3 separate regions of the Homo sapiens genome follow, and all the other regions are linked to region 2. Evidence: fine-mapped expression QTL. A gene starts in region 2. Each other region holds a variant in brackets. All regions are shown on one strand. Distances are from middle to middle. Region 1 holds the start of LOC105376817 (a long non-coding RNA gene). Region 2 holds the start of MICOS10 (mitochondrial contact site and cristae organizing system subunit 10). Region 3 overlaps MICOS10-NBL1 (MICOS10-NBL1 readthrough).

Evidence for each region. PIP is the estimated chance that this variant, and not a neighbour inherited with it, causes the effect.
Region 1: its variant is the best candidate, but not a certain one, in a credible set for the expression of MICOS10 in whole blood (INTERVAL, PIP 0.88).
Region 3: its variant is the best candidate, but not a certain one, in a credible set for the expression of MICOS10 in whole blood (TOPMed, PIP 0.64).

What each region holds. Positions count from the first base shown.
Region 1 is chr1:19,524,464-19,531,384 of GRCh38, reverse strand. It overlaps LOC105376819 (a long non-coding RNA gene), which reads right to left. Exons shown (of 4, transcript XR_947020.3): 3 at 4,997-5,257. It overlaps LOC105376817 (a long non-coding RNA gene), which reads left to right and starts at 1,540. Exons shown (of 4, transcript XR_947017.3): 1 at 1,540-1,720. The variant A/C (reference allele first, on the strand shown) is at 4,507.
Region 2 is chr1:19,593,914-19,598,913 of GRCh38, reverse strand. It overlaps MICOS10 (mitochondrial contact site and cristae organizing system subunit 10), which reads right to left and starts at 1,935. Exons shown (of 4, transcript NM_001032363.4): 1 at 1,805-1,935. The coding sequence starts at 1,868. MICOS10-NBL1 (MICOS10-NBL1 readthrough) reads right to left here and starts at 1,935. Exons shown (of 4, transcript NM_001204089.2): 1 at 1,805-1,935. It overlaps MICOS10-DT (MICOS10 divergent transcript), which reads left to right and starts at 2,082. Exons shown (of 2, transcript NR_135054.1): 1 at 2,082-2,204. RefSeq lists a silencer at 1,513-1,722 and an enhancer at 1,843-2,142.
Region 3 is chr1:19,621,229-19,626,228 of GRCh38, reverse strand. All of the region lies in intron 1 of MICOS10-NBL1 (MICOS10-NBL1 readthrough), which reads right to left. It overlaps MICOS10 (mitochondrial contact site and cristae organizing system subunit 10), which reads right to left. Exons shown (of 4, transcript NM_001032363.4): 2 at 4,082-4,129; 3 at 2,646-2,755. Among named protein-coding and RNA genes, the nearest start is that of NBL1, 21 kb to the left of the region's middle. The variant A/G (reference allele first, on the strand shown) is at 2,661.

The DNA of each region.
Region 1 (6,921 bases), 68 kb after region 2:
ATTCAGTTCACAGTCAAGAGGAAGGGAAATAGGGTCCACCTTTTGAAGGAAGTGTCAAATTGTGGACATATCTTAAACCACCTCATCAAATCAAAAAGAAACAAGAAACCTGAAAGTCTTGAGGCTGCTAAAACTCCTGCTGCCATTAGGACAATGGGAATTTAGTATGAAGAAAAGAGTCCTAGATTGACAGTGATAGCAAGATTCATTCACTAATTCATCCATCCATTCATTCATCCACTCATTCAACAGCTATTAATTGACCATTACTGTGTGCAGTTGGAAAACTCTATTATATGCTACAGGGCTCAAGAACAAACACCATTATAATTAAAATAACCATTGCTAGCTGGGCACAGTGGTTCATGTCTGTAATCCCAGCACTGGGAGGCCAAGGCGGAAGGATCGCTTGAGCTCAGGAGTTTGCGACCAGCCTGGGCAACATGGTGAAATCCTATCTCTACAAAAAATAAAAAAATTACCCAGATGTAGTGGTGTGTGCCTGTAGTCCCAGCTACTAGGGAGACTGAGGTGGGAGGACCATGAGCCTCGGAGGCAGAGGCTTCAGTGAGCCAAGATTGCATCACTGCACTCCAGCCTGGGTGACAAAGTGAGATCCTGTCTCAATAATAATAATAATAATAATAACAACAACAATTGCTGGCCTTTATCTAGCACTTACTGTGTGCCCAGTACTACAAAGATCTTTGGATTTAATTATCTCATTTAATTATCCCAATAACCCTTTGAGGTGGGGGCTGTTATTATTCCCCATTTACAAATGAGAAACCTTAGAAAGGGAAGGTCATGTACTTTCAAGGGGTAGAACCCGTGATGTGAATCTTAGTCTGTTTGGGCTGCTATAACAAAAAAACACCATCAACTGCATGGCTTATAATCAACAACCACTTACTTCTCACAGTTCCAGTGGCTGTGACATCAGCAAATTCAGTATCTGATAAGGGCCTACTTTCTGGTTCACAGATAGCATCTCCTCACTGTGTCCTCACGTAGTAGAAGGGGTGAGGGGTCTCTCTAGAGCCTCTTTTACAAAGGTACTAATCACATTCATGAGGGCTCACCCTTATGACCTGTCACCTCCAAAAGGCCCCACCTCCTAATACCATCACTTTGGGGGTTAGGATTTCAATGTATGAATTTGGGAGGGGTGCAGATCACAGACATCCAGGCCATGGCAGAACCAAAGGACTCTGACCTGAAAGTCTGTATGCTTACACCATAGAGTGTTCTAGTAATAACAGTGACAGTTATTATTACTGTTTTAATGATGGATTCCTGTTACCTAGCTGACAACTCTGAGGCTCAGAGAGCATGAGTGAATTGTCCAACGTTGTTTTTGGCAGAGCCGAGCTGCAAAGCCAGGTCCCAAGAGTGCCGAGTCTGTGCTCTTTCTTCTACACTTGCTTAAAATGGAATCCTTTTTGTCCTGCTTCCTGCAGAAACAGAGCTAGATGGAAAAGGGCCCAGGAGACTGGGGAGGAGCGTGGGAAGGGGGGAAATTATTGCTGGTGCCTGGAAGTTTTCACAAGCGTGGATTTCCCCTGGTTGGTTGAAGACTAGATCAGAATCTCTCCAGAGTCTGCTGTGAAGATGCTGTGGAATTCCTGGTGTGTCTGATGAGGTGTTGCTGCGCCGAGGCTGTCAGACAGCTGGCTCTCTGAGAAAACCTCCAGACCCTGTTGCTGCCCCAAGGAATGAGGTCAGATGTAGCTAAATGTTATGGAGCCTTTGCTGAGCGTCAGGCACGGGGTTTAGGTGTGCACATTTACTCAGTGTCTTCATGGCCATACACAAGTCAATACTCTTTATTATTCCCATCTTACAGAGGGGGAAACTGAGACACAAAAAGGACAACTTGGGCCAGGCGCAGTGGCTCACGCCTGTAATCCCAGCACTTTGGAAGTCCGAGGTGGGTGGATCACTTGAGATCAGGTGTTCGAGAACAGCCTGGCCAACATGGTGAAACCCCATCTCTACCAAAAATACAAATATTAGCCAGGCATGGTGGCGCATGCCTACAATCCCAGCTACTTGGGAGGCTGAGACAGGAGAATCACTTGCACCTGGGAGGCAGAGGTTGCAGTGAGTCGAGATCGCGTCACTGCACTCCAGCCTGGTCTCTGTCTCAAAAAAAAAAAAAAAAAAAAGAGAGAGAAAATACAAAACGGACGACTTGTCTGGGTGCGCATAGATATATGGTCTTCAAGCAGGTTTGCTGGGGTGCGGAGAGCTGGTAAACTGTAACAGTTTAAGCCCGGGGCCTGCAGTGAGGGGGCCTGATTTCATGGACCCTAGGCAATCTTGCCTCTGTGGGCCCCTTCCCTCCATAAAAAAATTTAACTTTATATTTCACGACTATGTTGGAATGAAGTTAAATCTAATCCAGACTGAAGTCACTATTTTTAAAATGTATTTTTTTATTTTTTAATTTTAAAAAATGTAATAATAGAGATGAGGTTTCACTATGTTGCCCAGGCTGGTCTCAACCTCCTGGACTCAAGTGATCCTTCTGCTTTGGTTTCCCAAAGTGCTGGGATTATGGGTGTGAGCCACTGTGCCTTGCTGAATTCATTATTATATGCTCATTATTATTATATTTATGTTTTTCTTCCAAGTTTAAAACAAATTAAAATAAAACAATGTTATTAGAATAAAATAAAGCCTCATGGGCCCTGTGCTTGCGGTGTCTGATGGGGAAGTTGGCTTTGTGGGATGAGTCCTGCTTCTCCCACGTGCTGACTGTGTGACCTTAGCCAACTTCACCTCTCTGTGCCTCACTTTATGTAATGTGGGAATAAATGGTAGACTATATGGTATGGGGTGATTATGAGGATGAAATGAACAATGTATGTAAAATGCTCAGTACAGTGCCTGCCATAAATGAAAATGCTCAATCAATTAATAAATATTAGTTGATATTTTTTGTTTTTTAGTAACTTGTATTGGTCCCACAGCTAGCAAGTGGTAGAGCTAAGAGTGTACCCTAGGTTTAACTGACTATCAAATCTCTGATCTAACCTCCTCAAAGCGGTGACAGAATAAGTGGCAGAACAGAGCTGAGAATTGCGCTACAGTGAATCTGTTCCCCAACTAAAATACAGTCAACACATTGTAAATTTTCCAGTAGGGTCTTCATATATATATATATATATATATATATATATATATATATATATATGCATACACATATGCACATACACACACATATCTCTCCCTATGAAGTAGACATTATTTATTTAAATTTTATGTAACATATATTTTACCACTATATATATGACCACTATTTTATATATATATATATACCCACTATATATATTTTTTCATATTTTTTATTTTATTTTTTGTGACAAAGTCTTGCACTGTCACCCAGGCTGGAGTGCAGTGGCACAATCTCAGCTCACTGCAACCTCCACCTCCTGGGTTCATGCGATTCTCCTCCCTCAGCCTCCCGAGTAGCTGGGATTATAGGTGCACACCACCAAACCTGGCTAATTTTTTGTATTTTTTTTTTTTTTTTTTTTTTAGTAGAGACGAGGTTTCACTATGTTGGCCAGACTGGTCTCAAACTCCTGATCTCAGGTGATCCATCCACCTCAGCCTCCCAAAGTACTGGGATTACAGGCATGAACCACTGCTCCCGGCCCACTGTATATATTTTACCATTGTATATATACACCACATACACACACATATATCTCCCCATGAAGTAGACATTATTTATTTAAATTTTGTTATATTTATTTTATGACTATATATACAGCCACCTTTTAATATATATAAGTATATATTTTACCACTATATATTTATATATAAACATACATATACCTAGTGATAAAAATATAATAATATAATATGTATAAATATATACATGTTATATATAATATGTATACATATATAATATGTGTATATACACATTATGTGTATATATAATATATAATGCATAATACATAGTCTGTATATATACATATTATATATACATTATATACATATCAATTATATAATATTCATGTAATATAATTTATATTTATTATTGAATAATATGTATTAATTTATGATATGTACATATTAATATGTATACTAATATGTATATACATTGCATAAATACATAATATGTATATATTATAATATGTGTATATCTACATATGTGTATATGTATTTACATATATGCGTAAAATATTTATATATCATGAATATTTTAATATGTATATATTAATATATGTATGCTATAATACCAAAATTATTTATAAATCTATATTTATATAATCTATAACATAAAATTTACTATTTCAACCATTTTTTAGTGTATAATTCAGTGGTATTAAGTAGATTCACATTGCTTGCACTATTTATCTCCAGAACTTTTTTATCTTTCAAAACTGAAACTCTGTACCCATTAAAAAATAATTCCTCATTCCATCCTCCCTTCAGCCCCTAGTAACTGCTCTTCTAGTTTGTCTCTATGAGTTTGACTGATCCAAGTACATC[A/C]TATAAGTTTCATCCTAAGTCATCAAAATCTGTTGTGTATTTTACACTTACAGCATATCTCAGTTTGGCCTCACCATATATTTTGAGTGCTCAGTAGCCACATGTGGCCACCATATTGGACAGCACAGGGCTATAGGTTGGGTGATCAGGATTCTGGGGACACTCCATATCCAGGATAACCTTTACTACTACAATTCTCTCCCATATTCCCCGTGAATATGTGAGTTGAGGTTAGAAAAATATACTCCTCCTGAGATTATGGTGTAGGAGTAGAGTCAAAAGCCTGAAATAAGAGTCCATGGGTTTTAGTTGAAGTGGACTGGAGTGAGCTGCCTGGACTTAGACTTATCGAGGATCTGCAGAAGACATGCCCTCTCCATCGCTCTTCCTACCACCACTCTCACTTGCACCCATGCATGGAGTGCTGGAGGCTGGACAGTGGGATTTCGATTGAGGATGTCTACTATGCTGAAATAAACAAGCAACACACCAGACTATTACTCATAGGCTGACACACTTGAAGACTGAAGGGTATCTTAGGCATCATCCAGCGGAGTGGCTTTGAGCTGGTTTGTGGAGTCACTGGGCTTTAAAAAGATAGAGACGTGGATCCTGGAGTTGAGTGTCTGGGTTTGAATCTTGGCTCTGTGACTTACGAGCTGTGTGACCTTCAGCAAGTTGCTCAACTCCATTGGGCTTCAACTCCCTCATGGAAATTGTGGATCATTATAATGCCCACTTCACAGGGTTACTAAGAAGATTTAAGTAAAATATTAAATTAATGCATGTAATACACTTAGAGCTGAGCTTAAAGTAAATACAATTTAAGTGTTTGTTAAAGAATGACTCAGTGGCTCTACTGAGGGAAAGGCCAGGTCCCTGTTCTCACTACAAGCAGAGAAGCTTTGCTTTTATCTGCTTTTATGTTGGGCTTCCTTGTAAAATGTCATTAAAAGGAAGAACAATGGGTGAACACTCACTCGTGTTGTAATGTAAGCCTGTACTTTACAAATGGGAAACACAACCAGGACAGCTATGTGCTCTGCCTGAGGTCCCACAACTGAGAGGTGGGTAGAACAGGTGCAGAAACCAGGGAAGGGCTGCTTCACTACACTGCGCTGTCTATACTGTGCTGAAAGACTGGAATTTTGGGGTCTTGTTTTCCTAGGGAAGTCTCATACATCACTGGTAACAGCTCAGCTCCATGCCAGCTTGAAAAAAGATGGTATAAATGAGCTTTTTGGCTGGGTGCAGTGGCTCACATCTATAATCCCAGCATTTTGGGAGATTGAGGCAGGCAGATCCCTTGAGTCCAGGAGTTTGAGATCAGCCTGGGCAACATGGTGAAACCCCATCTCTACACAAAAAAAATACAAAAATTAGCCAGGCGTGATGATGTGCGCCTGTAGTTACAGCTACTCAGGAGGCTGAGGTGGAAGAATTGCTTGATCCCAGGAGGTCGAGGCTGCAGTGAGCTGTGATCACACCACTGTGTTCCAGCTTGGGTGACAGAGGGAGAACCTCTCGAAAAAAAAAAAAAAGAAGGAAAAAAAAAAGAGCTCTTTGCTTCTTCATGGCAAAGGTCATTGAAGGTGGTCCCTGGAGGAGTTGCGCTTTCTTGTCCCATGAATGGTGGAGAAGTTTTGTTGTTCTTTTGAGACAAGGCCTCGCTCTGTCACTCAGGCTGGAGTGCAATGGCATGACTACGGCTCACTGCAGCCTCAACCTCATGGGCTCAGGTCAAGCCATCCTCCCACCACAGCATCCTGAATAGCTGGGAGTACAGGGGCGCACCACCACACCTGGCTGATTTTTAAAAATTTTTTTTGTAGAGGTGGGGTCTTGCTGTGCTGCCCAGGCTGGTCTCAAACTCCTGGGCTCCAGTGATCCTCCCGTTTCAACCTCCTAAGGTGCTGGGATTACAGGCATGAGCCACTGCACCCAGCTGGTGGAGAAGATTTTGAGCCTGCTGGATGGTATTTCTGGGTGCTAGAACCTTCCCTAAAGTAGATGACTTTGGGCTCGGCACTCAACATCCTCTCCATCTCTCCTCCGCAGAATAATGGCTGAGAGGCTCAAGGAATTGATGCCACCTCTAGGCCTCTGATTAGTCTAATCAATCACCCACCTTTTTTTTCTTTTTTTTTTTTTTGCTAATGTTTGGTTCAGGGATGGCAGGTCGAGGCCAATGTGGGCCAAAGAGATACTGGAAAATTTTGCTAAGTTCTCAGTCTTTTTGAATGTAAACTAGAAACACATTGTTCTAGTTTCTATGGGAAGTCCTTCTGCAGTCATGAAAAAGACATCCTGAGAACTAGACAATATTTGAAGTAAGAAAGAGAATATCTGGCCTGGTGCGGTGACTGACACCTACAATCCCAGAGCTTTGAGAGACCGAGGGAGGAGGATCCTTTG
Region 2 (5,000 bases):
TTAAAAATAAATATAAATAAAATACATTAAAAAATTTTAAAAGCCAGTTATTATGACTACCATTACTGTATACATAAAGCACCAGGCACTGTGCTAAGTAGCTTATGTATTTTTCTGTCCTTTACTTTTTTTAATACTTTCAGGTAAATCTCTTTTGATCACCATTTCGTAGTTGAGAAAGAGACTTTACCCAAAGCTACAAAATTAGTAAGGATGGGCGAGAAGAGTGAGAGTGGATGATTCGAACTCAGCTCTGTCTACCTCCAAAGCCCCTTCTTCTTCTTCTCCTTTTTTTTTTTTTTAAGGGAAGGGTCTCACTTTGTTTCCCAGGCTGGTCTCCAACTCCTGATCTCAGGCGATCCTCCCGCCTCGGCCTCCCAAAGTGCTGGGATTACAGGCCTGAGCCACTTCGCCCAGCTCAAAGCCCTTTCTTAACTATATGACATTGCCTAGTAACTACTTTGGTCATTTCATAGCTAGGTGTTAAGTCTTCTCTCTGAACTGCAAGCTGTTAACAGTAACAAAACAAAAGTGACTGTTTAGTCGCTTCCAAAATAACCCATTCCTAAGTGATCCATATTCAAGCCTTTAAACAAACTAACTCATTTAATCCTCCCAACGACTCCATGAGATAGTAATAATTATTACTGCCGATTTCCAAATAGGAATCAGGCACAGAAAAGTTAAATAACTTGCCCCAAATCACTTGACTGTAAGTGCTGAATTCAGAGGTGAAATGGTAACTTATAAACTGTTTCATTTATTGACTCACTCTCAACAATTTTTATTAAGCACTCTTTTAGGGGCTGGGGATGGGGCAGTGACTAAACCAGAAAACATCCCTGCTCTCATGGAGCTTACAATCTTATTCCTCAATGTTTTCATTCAAAGACACAATCCTAAATCCTCTTAAATACCCTAAGATTACCACACAAAAATATCACATTTGGGTAACAAAAATTAGCATCGAAGAAGGAACATGGGACTTGACCCCAGAAAAGCTGGGTAAAATCCCTAATTTTGCCATTTGTTAGCTGTGACCGTGGGCAAATTCCTTCACCTGACTCTCCATTTCACGGCCTGTAAAAAGATTATTTCGCACAATGAAGACAATATACGCTCAATAAACGAGTTTCCTTTCTCCTCCCCACCATACAGTGACTTCATAATTTGTGCCGTCACTGAGCACGTGTTAAAGGACTACGCAGAAAAACTTAACGTGAACAACTTCTTACTTTCCAGCGCAATTCTCATTCCAGATCATCACCCCTCTAAGTTCAGGCCCCAGACTACTCTGATTCAAATAAATCAGGTGGCAAGTCGGGAATGACAGCAACTCGCATCAGGGCCTGGCGGTGTCTATGAAATGCTCCAGGTGACCTTCTCCAGAAGGCACTTTGGTTTCCGCCGGGGAGCAGCGTGGCCTCCTGAGCCGGTTCCCCGCCGCGTGCCGGGGAATGCACCACCCGGGAGGAGAACCCCGCGGCTCCGGCACGAGGGTGTGCCCCGACACTGTCTTCCACTCAAGAGCTCTGCGACTCTCCTGCCACCTGCCAACCCCGACCACCTCCTCCGGGCTGCAACTCCACCCCGCACCCGGGCTGCTGCTCCGGCTCCTCGGGTCTGTGCCCGCCGCCCGAGTGACCTCCCGCCGGGGCCCGGGCGGCTCGCCCTGGCCGGAGGGGCCGGAAAAGGCCGAGAGGCCTGACCTCCCGTGGGGCTTCCCTTCCTTCCTCCTGGGCAGCGCAGCCTGGAGCCAGCAGCTCTGCACCGGCCGGGCCTGCTGGGGCGAAAAGCCCCTTACCTATCTTCACGACCGCATCCGCCAGACACCGGTCCCACTTCCTGCCGAGCTCCGACTCAGACATGTTCCCCACCCGCGCCTCCAGCTTTCCTCTCGGCCGGCCCCCGCGCTCCGACCCCTGAAAGTCTCGCGAGAGCTGGAAACAAGTCCCAGGTCAGGAAGGCAGGCGCAGACGCTCCAGATATCGCGAGATGATCCGCTGCTTCCATCCCTTCCGGTTTTTTCAGTTGGTCGTCAAGGTGACGAGTTGTCTGGAGGCTCGAGGTGACCCTGACCTTGGGGCTGCGCCTATGGGTTTGCGAGGCTGACAGTTTCCTAGGCGTCACCCCAAGCCGTGACCAGGCCTTTCCTCCTCACCAAAGTGCGACATTGGCCCTGGAAATCCCCCGGGCAAGAGAGGGTACAGACTTGATTTATTCATTCATTAACGTACTCACCTTCACTTTCCCTACTCACTCTCTCATTCGTTCACTGGTTTCTTGCATTGGAATTCCCGCCTGAACCACTAACACCGAAACTGCTCTGGGAAAGATTACCTACCGCCAAATCAAATGGACTCTTTTCTGACCTCTGTACCGCATTCCACACAATTTTCCCTCCCTCTGATCCTCCCTGGCTCCTCTATTCGTTTCACTCCCGGTAACGCCACTCTTTCCTCTTCTCCCCATCTGCTGTTGTCTGTTGGTTTCCTCCAGGGCTGCCTTTTCTCTGCCAGCTGTTTAAGGACTGTTGGTTCGCAAGCTTCCATCAATTCTCTTTTCACTGTACAGACTCTCCCTGAGTAATTGCAAACACTGCCAAATTATATCTCCAGGTAAAACGTCTACCTCAGGCCTCCTATCCATGTATATATTTACACACCCACCCACACACACACACACATACACATACATACACAGGGTGCCCTCTGTATCTGTGGGTTTTGCATCCATGGATTTAACCAACCATGGACCAGAAACATTTTTGAATCAAATAAAAAATAATGCAAAATTTAAAATACAGTACAACTATTTACCTAGGATTTACATTGTATTAGGTATTATAAGTAACCTAGAGATGATTTAAAGTATATGGGAGCCAGCGCAGTGGCATGCGACCGTAGTCCCAGCTACTTGGGAGGCTGAGATGGGAGGATTGCTTGAGACTAGGAGTTCGACTTCATCTCTTTAAAAAAAAATAAGTAATTTTAAAAAAGGATATGTAAGCATGTGTGTAGGTTGTATGCAAATACCACGCCATTTTATATATGGGACTTGAGCATCCTGCATTTTGGTAACTGCGAGATCCTGAAACCAAATGCCCACAGCTATCAAGAGAGATTGTATATCCAGCCTACTGGCTAGTGTCATTGATTTTAGTCTTCCATCCTACCAACAAATAGAAATCTGACCACGTTATGCCTCTGATTAGAAGCTGTCAATGAAGGCCGAGAGCAGTGGCTCACACCTGTAATCCCAACACTCTGGGAGGCTGAGGCGGGAGGATTGTTTGAGGCCAGTAGTTCAAGACCAGCCTAGGCAGCATAGTGAGACTCCTGTCTCTACAAAAAATTTAAAAAATTAGCCAGGCTAATGTGATGTGTGCCTTTAGTCCCAGCTACTTAGGAGGCTGAGGTAGGAGGATCACTTGAGCCTGGGAAGTGGAGGCTACACTGAGCCATGTTCATGCCACTGCACTCCAGCCTGGGCATCAGAGTGATACCCTATCACAAAAGAAAAAAAAAAAAAGCTGTCAATGACTCCCATTCATACACTGGATCTATCCAAGCTTCAACACTGCACTGATTCTAGGAAGCCTAGTCAGATAGAGCTTAGAGCTGCCTTCCCCTTCTCATTGTCCCACTACCCTGCCTACCCGCATTGATTTCTCTATCTAGTACTGAAACATCTGGTTGTAGATATTATCTGCTAGTAGAACTAGAAGTTGCCCCTTCGTCTTCATACTTCCAGTCAGAGCACAATGCCTTGGATAGTAGGGTCTTCTATGAAATATTTGTTGAACTGAATTGAATTTATTCACCTATTTATTTGTTTATTTATTTATTGAGAGAGAGTCGCGCTCTGTTGCCCAGGCTGGAGTGCAGTGGCACGATCTCGGCTCACTGCAACCTCTGCCTACTGGGTTTGAGCAATTCTTCTGCCTCAGCCTCCAAAATAGCTGGGATTACAGGCGCCCACCACCACGCCTGGCTAACTTTTTGTATTTTTTTAGTAGAGATGGGGTTTCGCCATATTGGCCAGGCTGGTCTTGACTCCTGGCCTCAAGTGATCCACCCACCTTGGCCTCCCAAAGTGCTGGGATTACAGGCATCGTTCAACTATTTATTTGCAACTATGACAGCAAAACTCTGTTGTATCAGATCTTGCTACGACAGCCTCTTCCTTCAAGATAACTTCTATGACCACCCTTCCCTTCTCCTAGTTCTCTATTTTTTTAAATTATTCTTTCTTTTTTTTTTTTTTTTTGAGACAGAGTCTTGCTCTGTCACCCAGGCTGGAGTGCAGTGGCATGATCTTGGCTCACTGCAACCTCTGCCTCCCAGGTTCAAGAGATTCTCCTGTCTCAGCCACCTGAGTAGTTGGGATTACAAGCACGTGCCACCACCCCCAGCTAATTTTTGTATTTTTAGTAGAGATGGGGTTTCACCATGTTGGCCAAGCTGGTCTTGAACTCCTGACCTCAGGTGAACCACCCACCTCAGCCTCCCAAAGTGCTGGGATTACAGGCTTGAGCCATCATGCCCAGCCCTATTTTTCCTATTCTTTAAATTTTTCTTTGCTTTTCCTTTTTTATAGAGGTGAGGTTTTGCTATGCTGCCCAGGCTGGTCTCGAACTCCTGGGCTCAAGCCATCCTCCCACTTTGTCCTCCCAAAGTACTAGGATTATAGGCCTGAACCACCATGCCCAGCCCCTTCTAATTCTCATCACAGCTACTTATCAGATGATTTGTGTTTTTAATAATTGTTTGTAATTTTAACAATTATTTGTGTGTCTTTTGGATTTTGACTGTGAGCAAATTGAGAATGGAGGCCGTGCCATTTCTGTATCCCTAATGCTTAGCAGAGAGCTTGGTATATATCGGATTCTCAATAAATGCTTGTCGAATGGACATAAAAATTAATAAATAAGGCCGGGCACGGTGGCTCACGCCTGTAACCCAGCACTTTGGGAGGCCGAGGCGGGTGGCTCACAAGGT
Region 3 (5,000 bases), 27 kb before region 2:
TAGGTTCCTAAGAGTGCCATCCAGCCCCAATCTTCCAGGGAGAAGAGTGGGAAACGAGTGGAACAGGGCCAAACCATCATGACCTGGATAACAATTCCTAAAACCTGTCGAAGGCGTCCCAGGGGAGTGGGGAGAGCATGGTTCTCATCAGCCTACGAACTACATGGCCTTGCCAAGTTTCTCAACCCCGGTAAGAGTCTGCTTTCTCATCAGCTGAATGAGGATAGTAACATCTCTCACAAATCAACTGGCAGGTCTAGAGGGAAAGATTATTAAAGATAAAGCACCCAGGATGGTCCTGGGGGCAGATTGGGCACTCAGGAGGCAGTTATTACAATAGGACTACACTGAATAAGCCCAGGTTGGGATTTTGCTCCATTTTTCAGGGAATGGAGGATGACAACATCGAGGCACAGACTCAAGTCCAGATAAAGTTACAAGGCCATTTTGGAGCAGGACACACAAATGTAAAAAATGGAACAATATTTTCCACAGGAACTCCCAGCCATTAAATACATAATATGCATATAATCACCCCTGAGCCATTATCCCTGACAACTCAGTTTGGAACAATGGAAATGTTTTAAGCAAAAGACCTGAAGCTTCTCTGTCTGCTCCTTTCGGTTCTCCCCACAATCAGCTCTGATGCCAGGAAAGCGAGGAGCCAGGGAGTGGTGGAAAAGGCCGGCTGCCGGCTTCAGTGCCACACAGCTGCGCCTCTTCTTGCATGGTCCCTGTGATGACCTCACTCTTGCTTTGGTGCAGAGATGGCTCCCCTACTCCCATCTCTCCAGCAGACATGGGCTGGCTGCAGGCAGCTGACGGTTTCAGCAGGTTCTAAAATGGCAGGTGCAGGGCCGTGGCAGGATACTGCTACTTTGGATTTGGTGGCCCTTGTGGCCACAGCTCCTGACTAGAATTAGGACATGCATTTGTACCACATTTTCCACTCTACTTGTTGTTACAGTGGAACAATGGACAAGTCAATCACCCTTTTTGGGCTGGCCTCATCTATAATAACCAATGTTTTTATATATTTCGTACTTCACAGCTTAAAAACATTTTGTGTCTAAATCTCACAACAACACTATAGGTAGAAATTATTACCCTCATTTTATGGAGGAAAATGGAAGCTCAGAAGTGAAACAACTTAAGATCACACAGGAAGCAAGTGACAGGCTTGCACCTAGGTCTCCTGGCTTCTGTGCCCTTTCCACTAGCCCCACTGCAGCCCCGTTCACAGTGATTCTAGCCCAAGAGTAACCTGGAAAGCTGAGGCTTCTGTGCATGCAGGGAATGTGAAGTTGTTCACTGAAAATTGTGCTGCTACAAAGGTTATGCCTTAGTAAGCCTGAGGCCATCGGCACTTACCTCTAATAGAATAATTTACCTCATTCATTCATTTTACATTTATTTGAGTGCTATTTTGTTTCAGGCCCTGGGAATACAAAATAAGTGCCACCTCTGTCCTTGGGCACCCAGCCTCCAATGTTCCTGTCACTTAAACCCCACAGTAACTAATCATCAAGTAAGGAAAATACTGCTACACACGAAGCCCTGAGGAAGCCTGCTGCCCTCTTCCCTTTGGAGGTGTGGGTAAGAAGTTTCCAGCTTGTGTGCAGCATTAAAAATCCACCTGAAGGCCAGGCACAGTGGCTCACACCTATAATCCCAGCACTTTGGGAGGCCGAGACGGGTGGATCACCTGAGGTCAGGAGTTCAAGACCAGCCTGGCCAACATGGTGAAACCCCACCTCTACTAAAAATACGAAAATTAGCCGGGCGTGAGTGGCTCGTGCCTGTAATCCCAGCTACTCGGGAGGCTGAGGCAGAAGAATCGCTTGAACCCGGGAGGCAGAGGTCGCAGTGAGCCAAGATTGTGCCACTGCACTCCCACCTTGGTGGCAGAGTGATACTCCATCCCCACAAAATAAATAAAATAAAATAAAAATAAAAATCCACCTGAAGACAGGACTTCAGTAGAATGTGAGACTTACAGTCCAGACTGCCTTCTTCAATTAAAAAGCAGAACCACGGCCTGGCCAACATGGTGAAGCTCCGTCTCTACTAAAATACAAAAATCAGCCAGGCGTGGTGGCAGGTGCCTGTAATCCCAGCTACTCAGGAAGCTGAGGCAGGAGAATCACTTGAACCCGGTTGCAGTGAGCCAAGATGGCACCACTGCACTCCTGCCTGGGCGACAAAGCAAGACTCCGTCTCAAAAAAATGAAACAAATTAATAAAAAGCAGAATCATGGCTGAGTCCCGGAAGTCTTTGGGTTTAGCTTAAGTATATGTGAGATGTTTACAGGGCACTCTGAGCTCTTAAATGAAAAGTGCTACTTACAGATAGTTAACACAATCTACCTTACCATTGATGATAAACATTCAAGCAGGCTCCTTAATTCCAATCGGCTAGCACATGAGTATATATCTGAACGTACATACGCATCTGAAGGCACAGGGGAGACTTTAGCACCAAAGCAGTGATGACATCACTGAAGGCCAAAGAGCAATTAGTATCTGAGAGTGGTGCCACAATGACACACATGGTTTACTCATTACAAACAGTCTAAAGAATTCTTCAGGGCTCAGGAGAAATCTTTTTCTTCTGAAGGAAAGAGAAATATATATTCTGTACATACTTTGACATATTTTCC[A/G]TGTAGAAGATATGGAGCCTGGAAATCATGCTGACAGTTGGAATAAGCCATTCCTAATCCCATGCCAGAACCGAAGGCTAATGGCCACATTCTTCCTAGTGAGCAAAAAAGGGAAAATCCCAATAGGGAATTATTAAGAGAAGATAAAGCTCCCCATCCTCTTAAATACATTTACTTAGGGTTCAATAAATATTCAACGTGCATCATACTAATGACTATAATAACCATACATTTTTATCAATGTTTCACAATGGCCCCAAAAAAGAGGTGTAAATTAGTGAAGTTATTAATTTAGCAAATACTTGTTAAGTGCCTATGCTGATAAGTTTGAGGAAAATAAGTAGTAAAGGCCAGGCGCGGTGGCTCACAACTGTAATCCCCGCACTCTGGGAGGCGTAGGCGGGCGGATCACGAGGTCAGGAGATCGAGACCATCTTAGCCAACATGGTGAAACCCTGTCTCTACTAAAATACAAAAAAATTAGCCAGGCATGGTGGCGTGTGCCTGTAATCCCAGCTACTTGGGAGGCTGAGGCAGGGGAATCGCTTGAACCAGGGAGGCGGAGGTTGCAGTGAGCTGAGATCGCACCACTGCACTCCAGCCTGGCGACAGAGCAAGACTCCGTTTCAAAAAAAAAAAAAAAAAAAAGTAGTAAAATATGAAAACACTAGATAAACCTTTTAACTTCTCTATATCAGTTCTAATCATCTGCTCAGTTTAACTAATATCTTAGCCAGTAAGATGCATGAATTCTAAAAAGATGTAAGCATTTTACCGATATTTACATGCTTTGATTGTAGTAGTAAGTCATGGGGTTTATTTAAGCCACTCTGTAAGTGATTCTTTCATATCAGCACTATGTGTTAATTATGATTCTCTAGTCAAGTATTTCCCACTGGTTCTTCACGGAAAGAGGTCAAAAGGATCCCTCTGGCATCTATTCGGTATCCAAACTTCAGAAGTTCTTCCACAGAATGAAAAGAATATTGCCTGCCCTTTGCTTAGGATAATTTTTGACCAAGAAGTATGTGTATTTCTGGTCTACTTGTTTCTATTACCAGCAGGATTCTCATTTTCAATTCCTCTAGAAAAAATCACAATTAATTAGAAATATCTGAGCGTGTAGACTTGGCCAAATGACTCACTGGCATCAAGTACAGGCTTTTGCAATGATATCATATTTAGGATAACAGGCACCCTGCCTCAGTGCCCAGGGGAATGCTGGAGATGCCCAACCCATTTTGACCTCTTTCAAGTCCACATTCTTTATCTAATTCATTTTATAATGGGCTACCTAACCCCATAAATGGATGGGTTGGCAACCCACAAATTGATGGGTTCCAATGTGTCCTCTGGAAGTGTCCCTGCTACGTATATGTATACACTATGACATTATGTTGAAAAGACAGAGTGACACTTACTTTTAAAGAAGGTAAGTGAGAAAACAATTCCTAATCCAAAACCAGTACCTACAAAGAGGGAGAAAAAACATGCTAAATCTCATAGCAGTAACTTCACAAAGATAACATTAACATTTCTTAAATGTGAACATCATTAAACAGATTTTTTTTCATAATTTGGTAGAGAATTAATTTTCTAATTTCTAACCGTCTTTATTTGTCAGAGGTTTTACAGATGCCTTTGGTTCTCCTGCCCAACATGAAATAAAAACTTGACTCCCTGTTCTCTCTAGACAAGTTGCGGGGTGTGGGGCAGGGGAACAAGCCAGGAGACTGTTCTAGAGTGGACCCTCTCTACACTGCTGGCAAGGAGCCTCCAGCATCCTGGGCTCTCCTACCCACCTCAAAGAGGGATACCACAGCCAAAACATGAGATAGTGCCAACAGGACGCTCCCCTTGTCACCTCAGCACTTGGAGTGATGGCTACTTTTTGAGGAAGATAAAAAGCAGTAATCCAGAACAATTCCTAAAGGCTGAGCTATCACACAAGCCAGAATATCTAGGCAGAGGAAAAAGACGGCCCTCCAGAGCCCCAGATGAAGAAAATGACTTGCCCAAGGATATTGTTTAGTTAGTTGCGGAACAGTCATCTGGGCTCAAGTCTGCCAGACTCCAATGCTACTGTACCTGCCATGTCCAGATGTTGGATTCCTCTCCAGTTTCAACCCCTAAACAATTACTACCCCTCAAGGGAAATTGGAATGTCAAGATTTCTACTGCCAGTGAAATACAGCCAAAATATGACTGTGCTCCCCATACAGCTCAGAATGCTAGACAACCTGGGTAGTAACAAGTCTTCACAAAGCCAAAAGGGCCTGTTAGATTCATTCCCAGACCAATCCTACCGCACAAGTCACAGACACAAGAAGTTGACCTGGT